3 separate regions of the Homo sapiens genome follow, and regions 2 and 3 are each linked to region 1. The links come from fine-mapping of genetic effects on gene expression. A gene starts in region 1. Each other region holds a variant in brackets. All regions are shown on one strand. Distances are from middle to middle.

Region 1 (2,837 bases):
CCCAGGTCACAGAGCCGGAGCCAGACTCACTCGAGTAATTGGCCAGCCCGGGCTCTGGGCTCAAATCCAGCCTGCTGGCTGTTCCCTAGCTGATGGGCCTTTCCATCGGGGGTTCCCTTATATGTGAGATTTAGAAAATAAATGAGTGTACCTAGCACTTTCACTAATGCATCTATCCATTACAACGGGCGGTGTGCGTGCAGTAACAACACCGAGACAATCCTTGTCCCGCACTTAAAAAAAACTCTGGGCGCTCCAGTGTTTTTGTTTTTGAGACAGGGTCTTGCTCTGTTGCCCTGGCTGGGGTGCAGTGGTGCGATCATAGCTCACTGTAGCCTCTACCTCTCTGGCTCAATCGATCCTCTCACCCCAGCCTCCCGTGTAGCTGAGACCTCAAGTGCGCACCACCTCACTCAGCTAATTTTTTAAAATTTTTTGTAGAGGCGGGGGTCTAACTATGTTGCCTACGCTGGTCTCGAACTCCTGGGCTCAAGCCATCCTACCGCGTCAGCCTCCCAAAGTGCTCGGCCAGGCGCTCCAGTTTTTATCCAGGCATCTACACTGTAAGATAGATGTTGTTCTCCCTTGGTTGTAAGTGGGGAAGCCGAAGCTAGGCGGGCAGGGACTCTCACCCTCACGTACTCACACAAACACTGTCTGCACAGCCTCTTGGGCAGAGCTAGCGCTGGCACCAGTTTAGTTTGGTGCTGAAACCATACCCCTCTTGCTCTGCAAGAGCCCATCTCCCCTTAGAATATTCTTTCGGGTCCACAGCCCAAGACAAACCTTTGCCACAGGGGAACGCAGAGGAGGAAGCGGGGTGCGAGCACCAGAATCAGCCCTGGCGTGTCCCGCGGGGTGGTAGAAGGTGGTTTGAAGAACACTCCTTGGTGGTCCTAATTGCTGCACGTGAGGTCAAGGCAGGGCCGCCCATCCCAGGCAGATGAGCTCCAGGAGCCTTCCTCGTGCCTGAGAAGACGGCAAGGAGAAAACACTGCCGGCTGGAAGCCCTCGAGAATCTCGAAGAAGCCCAGAATGAAAGGACCAGGCGGCCGGGACTCGGAGCTCCCTAGCCAGGGCGCGCGCAGCCAGGCCTGACGCTTCCCTCCGCCCTCGGCGGCCTCTGCGTCCTCCCAGCACCCGGCAGCCTTGCCAGGGGTCCCGGATGCCCAGAGCACCCCCCAAGGAGGAGAGAGAAGAGAGGGAGTCCAGGATGAGAAGACGGGGGGCCAGGGTGGGAGGGGACACTCCTCTTCCCTGGCCGTCCCTAGAAGTCACACACAGACATTCACTCAAAAAGACACGCATGCAGATGCGCACACACAGACACAGGCGCAATCATGTAAACGGACACACAGAGACCACAGACGCTCGTGCTCATACACGCGCTCTCGCTCTTCACACCCTGCACCAGGTGGGCACTCACCCGCCCGCACCCTGGCTGTGCTTTCACAGATCCCGGGAGAGGGCGGAGCCCGGGCCGGGGGCTGGAGACCGCCCCCGGCCCCGCCCCCACGCCCTCCCATCTCTCCCTCCTTCCTGCCGTCCCCCGCCTGAGGGAGGGGAGCGGTGCAGCAGACATCCGAGGGCAGCTGGGACCCCCTGACTCAGCCGACGGGTGAGTCAGGCTCCCTGCAGGCCACACCGGACCCCCCCAGGGCGGGGATTTCCCCAAGATGAGAAATCAGCCACCGGAAGTCACGCCGGACCTTGGACGGGCAGACAGAGGCTGGGAGGAGTTCTGGGTGCAGAGCCCCCCAACCTGGTAAGTACAATGATCCCAGGGCTAGGACACCAACGAGATTTTCCAAAGGGCAGACGAGCTTCAGCGGTTCCTCCACCCCCATTCCCCACGTGTGGGAGCCCTCCTCCCTAGCGGCCCCGTCCTGCAATCGTCCCCCTGCGCGAAGACTTCCGTTTATCTCCAGCATGGATGGAGGGAAAGTCAAGCTCAAACACAAGGTCCCCATCAGCAATGGAACCCAATGATCCGCTGGGGGTTCAAATTGGGGGTGTCAGGCACGGGTGTCTCTGGAGCCCAGAGAAAAATCCAAGATTCTTTGAAATGGCAAAAGCCCCCAAAAGTGACTTTCTTGTATTGCCACGATGAACTGGAACTGCCCTGACAAACTCTAAAAAGATAGAGACCTTAATAAATTGTGTAGAGAAGAATTAAAAGAGTGAATACAGATGCATGGAAAATCTCTAGAACAGTGCCTGGCACTCATATTAAGTATTGGCTCTCACACATGGATAACAGACACAAGGAGACCAAGTGACTTGCCCCAGGTGGCACAACTAGTTAGTGGCAGAGATGGAGGAAAAACCAGTCTCTGATTCTTTGTTCACAGCTCAGGTACCTTCAGTCCTTTCTGAAATTAAGTGAGAGTATAAATAAAGTCATTTAGTGGATAAATGAATTTTACCACTGTTAAATATCAGAGTAGACCTGGCACAGTGGCTCACGCCTGTAGTCCCAGCACTTTGGGAGGCCAGGGCAGGAGGATCACTTGAGCCCAGGAGTTCAAGACCAGCCTGGGCCACACAGTGAGACCCCCGTCTCTATTTTAAAAAGAAAAGAAAAATCAGAGTAAATTAAGGCGGGCACGGTGGCTCACGCCTGTAATCTCAGCACTTTGCGAGGCCGAGGTGGGAGGATCATTTAAGGCCAGGAGTTTAAGAACAACCTGGGCAAAACAGTGAGACCTCGTCTCTACTAAAAAAAAAAAAAAAAGAAAATTAGCCTGGCATGGTGGCATTTGCCTGTAGTCCTAGCTACTTAGGAGGCCAAGGGAGAAGGATTGCTTGGCCCAGAAGTCTGCGGTGAGCTATGATGG
Region 2 (2,500 bases), 30 kb before region 1:
GCAGCACAGGGAAGGCCTGAGGGGCATGAGCGGCCCTGGGGTGAGGGAGGGTACCACGGGCTGTGCATGGGTGCCCTGTCTCAGCTACCCCAACTCTGGGGACCTCGGGGCATGTCCATTCCCCACTCCAGGCCTCAGTTTCCCCATCAGGGATCAAGAACTTCAGGGACCCTTGCTCTAACATCCTAGGGCTCCCTGGACTTCTCAGATTCCTATGAGCCCATGTGGGTGGGGAAGGACTTTTCCTGCCACCTGATGTCCGGCCCCTTCCAATTCCACCTGACACCACCACCCTGGAAGTCCCTCTGATCCAGTCCCCCTCGATTCCTGCCAGTGGAACCCAGACCTGCCCTGCTTATACGATTTCCCCAGTGAAACACACTCCAGGCAGGAGGGCCAACCTCTGAGGACTCAGGTATCATGTCCAGCAAACAGGACAATAAAGCCCATGACTGCAGGCTGTTGCGATGGAGCGTGTGAAAGTGTTAAGAGACAACAGGGAGGTGGGCTCAGCCCCTAGAGGTTGAGGCAGGTGCAGCCCTCACAGGCTGCAGGCACCGCCCTGGTGCCTCCAGGGAGCACCACAGCCCCCAGCCCAGCTGGACCCAGCCCCTCTTCCATGCCCGGCCCTTCCCCCAGCTCTGCGGTCCCGGATCCCTGGGCTGAACCTGGCCCCATAACCTCCACCAAAGTCAAATACCCAGAACGCTGCTTGGCCCAAGTTTCTACGAATCAGCCTCCAGGGCCGGCTGGCCCACCCCCTCCCCACTTCCTGTTTTCAAGCCGCTCACAGCGCCCCAGGCAGGGATGCTGGGTAATGTGGTCAGGTGGCTTTCATGTGATCCCCCTCCTTCCTCTGCTACCCCTCCAGGATACAGCCACCTTGTTTGTGCAAAAAAACAGTGTCTCTCCCACCTATCCCAGGAGCCCCACCTTCATCCGCTCGTCGGCGTTCACTTTGCTGCCCTGGATGAGCTCGATGCGGAACGGCTGCTCCAGGGACCACAGGGACACAGAGGAAGGCTGGGGGCCGGGGAAGCAGGGCTGTTAACACGGCTCAAAGTGCAGCTTGTCTCCCTGGCCTATGG[T/C]GAGGCCCGTGACCACTTGGGGGCGGGTGAGAGGGTCACAGGTTTGCGGCCAGGTTTGGGCCTGTCCACAATGCTATCCTTTCCCAGAAAACCTGCCATGCGGGCTCCCCAGGGGGCCCCAACACCCCTGAGCTCTGCAGAGGGGAAGGGCAGCCGGTGAGCCAGGCATGGGGCTGCCCCCCACCCACGGCAGTCCCACAGGCCCCCAGCCCAGGACGCTGGTCAGCTGTGTTGGCTTCCCCAGCTCAAAGCCCCAGCTCTCCATACCAAGGGCCCCTGGACCCATGGCCAGTAGCACATGGAGTTGGACGCCAGGTGGAAAGAAGGGGTGGCTCAGAGGGGAGGCGGAAGGCGCCATCTCACCTTCTTCGCAGGAATGGGAGGTGGTTTGGCACGCGGTTTCTGGACCTGGGGGGCAGGGTTGCTCTGCTCATCCCGCATGGCGAGGATGGAGGAGGAATGGACCATGGTCAGGTGAGGGGTCAACCCACTGTGCAGGCAGCTGCAGATGTACTGAGACGGGGTGCAGGGTGAGCGGCTGGTGGGGCGGCCCCAACCACTCCCTGGACACCAGGATTCCCAGGACCCCCCAAGCTGCCCACTGCCTGTCCTAGGCCTTGGGAGAGGGGAGGGCTTCCTGCTGGTTTTTCCTGCCCCACCTCCACCTCCCAAGACGGAGCCCCTCCTTGTGCTCTCAGAGAGGGCCAGCCCTACCAGGGGATGCTCTGGCGGTGACCCAAAGGCCTGGCTCGGCAGGCTCAAGGTGCGCCCAAATGTCAGCTCCCCGACTCCCACCCAGGCCCTATCCAGGGCGTTGGGAGCCCAGAGTGCAGAGGGCCTCAGCGGCCTCACCTGGAACTGGCAGAGCGGGTAGCTGCCATACAGGTACTCATGCCTGCCGTTCACCTGCAGCGTGTAGTCTTCCGGCTGCTCCACCAGCGGCTGCCGGAACACTGTGGCCTTCTTCCGCAGGGCACAGGCCATCAGCGCCAGCGGCACGTCCTTGGTGGACACCTGGAAGGTGAAGCTCTCCTGTGGGGAGGAGGGAGGTCAGTCCTCTGCCCTCGAGGCCCCCCGGGGTTCTGGGGCACAGGGCAGGGTTGCCTATTTGCCCCCAAGGGTAGGGTCTGGGGAGTTCACAAATGACACTGGGAAATATTTGTTCAAAGAATGAACAAACTGATGCCCAATGCCCCACGCCACTTGGTTATCCTGCCACGTTGAGCTTGCCTGGGGGGACGTTCAGTTGAGCCCCACACATGCACAGACACCTGGCAAACACCATCTGATGCCACTGGGGGAGGGGGGCTTGCGGATGACTGAGGAGTTTCACAGAGGAAGTGCTCCCCATGGACAGAGCAGCCTGGATGCCGCAGGCCACGCATGGGCTCACCTCGCTGCCCTCAAACTTA
Region 3 (2,837 bases), 43 kb after region 1:
ATTGAGGTTTCTGCCTCGTGATGTGCACTGCATCTGTTAATAAACTTGCTTGGTTTTCACGTGAATCTGTCTTTTGTTACGGCGGGCTGTCCCAACTATGAACTTACCGGGGCTGAGGAGAAGTTATATTTTCTCCCTGATACGTACAACCGCCCAGCAAGGTAAATCTTATCCCCAATTTACGGATGAGAAAACTGAGGCTCAGGAAAGTTGAGTCCTTTTTCAGGGCCACACAGTCTATAAATATCTATTATAATAACTTCTTCCAGATCCTTGCTACTTTCACCATGCCATGGGTCTCGTTAGGCCTCTGTCCTAAGAAGTTTCACTTTCGGCCAGGTGCGGTGGCTCCCGCCTGTAATCCCAGCACTTTGGGAGGCTGAGGTGGGCGGATCACCTGAGGCCAGGAGTTTGAGACCAGCCTGGCCAACGTGACAAAACCCCATCTCTACTAAAAATAAAAATAAAAATAAAAAAATAAAAAATAAAAAATAAAAATACGGCCAGGCACAGTGTCATGCCTGTAATCCCAGCACTCTGGGAGGCCTAGGCAGGTGGATCACCTGAGGTCAGGGGTTCACGACCATGCTGGCCAACAGGTGAAACCCCATCTCTACTAAAAATACAAAAAATTAGCTGAGCATGGTGGCGGGCACCTGTAATCCCAGCTACTCAGGAGGCTGAGGCAGGAGAATTGCTTAAACTCAGGAAGTAGAGGTGCAGTGAGCCAAGATCATGCCATTGCACTCCAGTCTGGGCAACAAGAGCGAAACTCTGTCTCAAAAAAAAAAAAAAAAAAATTAGCCATTCCTGGTGGCAGGCACTTGTAATCCCAGCTACTTGGGAGACTGAGGCAGGAGAATTGCCTCAGTGAGCCGAGATCATGCCATTGCACTCCAGCCTGGGCAACAAGAGCGAAGCTTCATCTCAAAAAAATAAATAAATAAATAAATAAAATAAAATAGAAGTTTCACTTTCCTGAAAACCTGATACACTTCCTTTTTGAAACCGTGACCCTAGGGACTTATCATGACCCTCTCTTTTGCTTGGGGTGCCAGGAAGCTTAAGCTAAATTTAACATTCAAGCTGGGCAAGCGGTGGCTCACGCCTCTAATCCCAGCACTTTGGGAGGCCGAGGCAGGTGGATCGCCTGAAGTCAGGAGTTTGCGACTAGACTGGCCAACAGGTGAAACCTCATCTCTACTAAAACACAAAAATTAGCCAGGTGTGGTGGTGGGTGCCTGTAATCCCAGCTACCGGTTGAGGCAGGAGAATCACTTGAACCCAGGAGGCGGAGGTGGCAGTGAGCCGAGGTTGCGCCACTGCACTCCAGCCTGGGTGACAGAACAAGACTCCGTCTCAAAAAAAAAAAAAAAAAAGAAAAGAAAAGAAAAGAAAAGAAAAATAGGCCTGGAGATCTGGGCAAGCTCTGCGGAAGGGCCTGCAGTGTGCTTCTGCCCGTCCAAGCCTGTTCTCCACTGACCAGCCCCACCCTTTAATGACTAACACCTCTTTTCTCTTCCATCAAATGGGGCCA[A/C]AGTATTTCCCAATCAGTATTAATTTCCTGAGAAAGGAGCGGAAGGCCCCAGAGCTGATGTAAGTAATGCATGTTGGTTGACTTTCTTGCAGCTAAGGGGCCATTTTTCTTCTAGGATTGCTGTCCATTCTCCACTGCAACTAGTTCATTTTTTTTGACAATTCAAAGGGAACTTGAGGTAGCTTCCTCCAAGGCACACATGACAACAGTTAAAAATAAAGCTAGAGAGCTCAGAAACTGCATAGAGGAAGGCAGCAGCCGATTCTATCAGGAACTTGAAGAACGATGATGGCTGTTCTTGAAGGTTACATATTTATTTATTTATTTATTTATTTATTTATTTATTTATTTGAGACGGAGTCTTCCTCGTCATCCAGGCTGGAATGCAGTGGTGAGATCTCGGCTCACTGCAACCTCCGCTTCCTGGGTTCAAGTGATTCTCCTGCCTCAGCCTCCCAAGTAGCTGGGACTACCTACAGGCGCCCACCACCACGCCCAGCTAATTTTGTATTTTTAGTAGAGACAGGGTTTCACCATGTTGGCCAGGCTGGTCTCAAACTCCTGACCTCAGGTGATCCTCCTGACTCAAGCCCCCCAAAGTGCTGGGATTCCAGGCGTGAGCCACCACTCCAGCCCAGGCTTTCTTCTTTCCTGTAACCCTCTCCTGCAGAACGTCCCTGCAGAACTTCCCCTCCAAAAGCCAAGCAACTCACAGCTTCTTCTCACAAATGCTGCAAACATTTTTGTTTTGCTCAACCCGGAGTGGCTTCACCACCACCACCCACGCATGCCCATAAGAAGGGTTATCACAGGGCAGCCACTCTGAGCACCCAGGGAGTGGGGGCTGCAAGTGTGAGAAGCCCACTTCTTCAGCCCCTGCACAAGGGACTCCAGACACTGCCTCCATGCCCCATCCTGGCAGGAAGCCCACTTTGCTGGGTGTGGGTCTTTTCCTTCCAGGCGAGGCAGAAACTACCCAGCTCGAGTCTTTACCCTTTGCTTTGGCCAGGAAAAGTATAGTGAAGCTTAGGGGTTAAGAGCACCTTCTTTGGAACCAAACTGCCTGGCCCTGCCACTGTGGAGCTGTGTGACCTTAGGTGACTTAACCTCTCTATGCCTCTGCTTCCTCATCTGTAGCCTGGGGACACTAATAATGGTGCTCAACTTTCAGAACTGCTGTTGGGATTAAATGAATTAATATATGTAAAATGTTTATAACTGTACCTGACACAGAGGGCACCCTCAGAAAATGTGAGTTTTTGAGCTATCTTAGTTATATTCTAGAACGGCATCTTTGGGC

The links. PIP is the estimated chance that this variant, and not a neighbour inherited with it, causes the effect.
Region 2: its variant is fine-mapped to the expression of PIK3CD-AS2 in whole blood (TOPMed, PIP above 0.99).
Region 3: its variant is fine-mapped to the expression of PIK3CD-AS2 in nasal epithelium (TOPMed, PIP above 0.99).

The regions. Positions count from the first base shown.
Region 1 is chr1:9,686,263-9,689,099 of GRCh38, reverse strand. PIK3CD-AS2 (PIK3CD antisense RNA 2) reads left to right here and starts at 1,526. Exons shown (of 2, transcript NR_126367.1): 1 at 1,526-1,765. All of the region lies in intron 1 of PIK3CD (phosphatidylinositol-4,5-bisphosphate 3-kinase catalytic subunit delta), which reads right to left. RefSeq lists silencers at 892-1,086, 1,412-1,551 and an enhancer at 1,602-1,771.
Region 2 is chr1:9,716,060-9,718,559 of GRCh38, reverse strand. PIK3CD (phosphatidylinositol-4,5-bisphosphate 3-kinase catalytic subunit delta) reads right to left here. Exons shown (of 24, transcript NM_005026.5): 5 at 2,482-2,500; 6 at 1,941-2,120; 7 at 1,452-1,601; 8 at 934-1,023. LOC124903839 (a long non-coding RNA gene) reads left to right here. Exons shown (of 2, transcript XR_007065457.1): 2 at 190-457. Among named protein-coding and RNA genes, the nearest start is that of PIK3CD-AS2, 30 kb to the right of the region's middle. RefSeq lists enhancers at 1-275, 1,252-2,227, 2,228-2,500 and a silencer at 531-600. The variant T/C (reference allele first, on the strand shown) is at 1,089.
Region 3 is chr1:9,643,568-9,646,404 of GRCh38, reverse strand. It overlaps a transcript of PIK3CD not described here. Among named protein-coding and RNA genes, the nearest start is that of PIK3CD, 6.7 kb to the left of the region's middle. The variant A/C (reference allele first, on the strand shown) is at 1,538.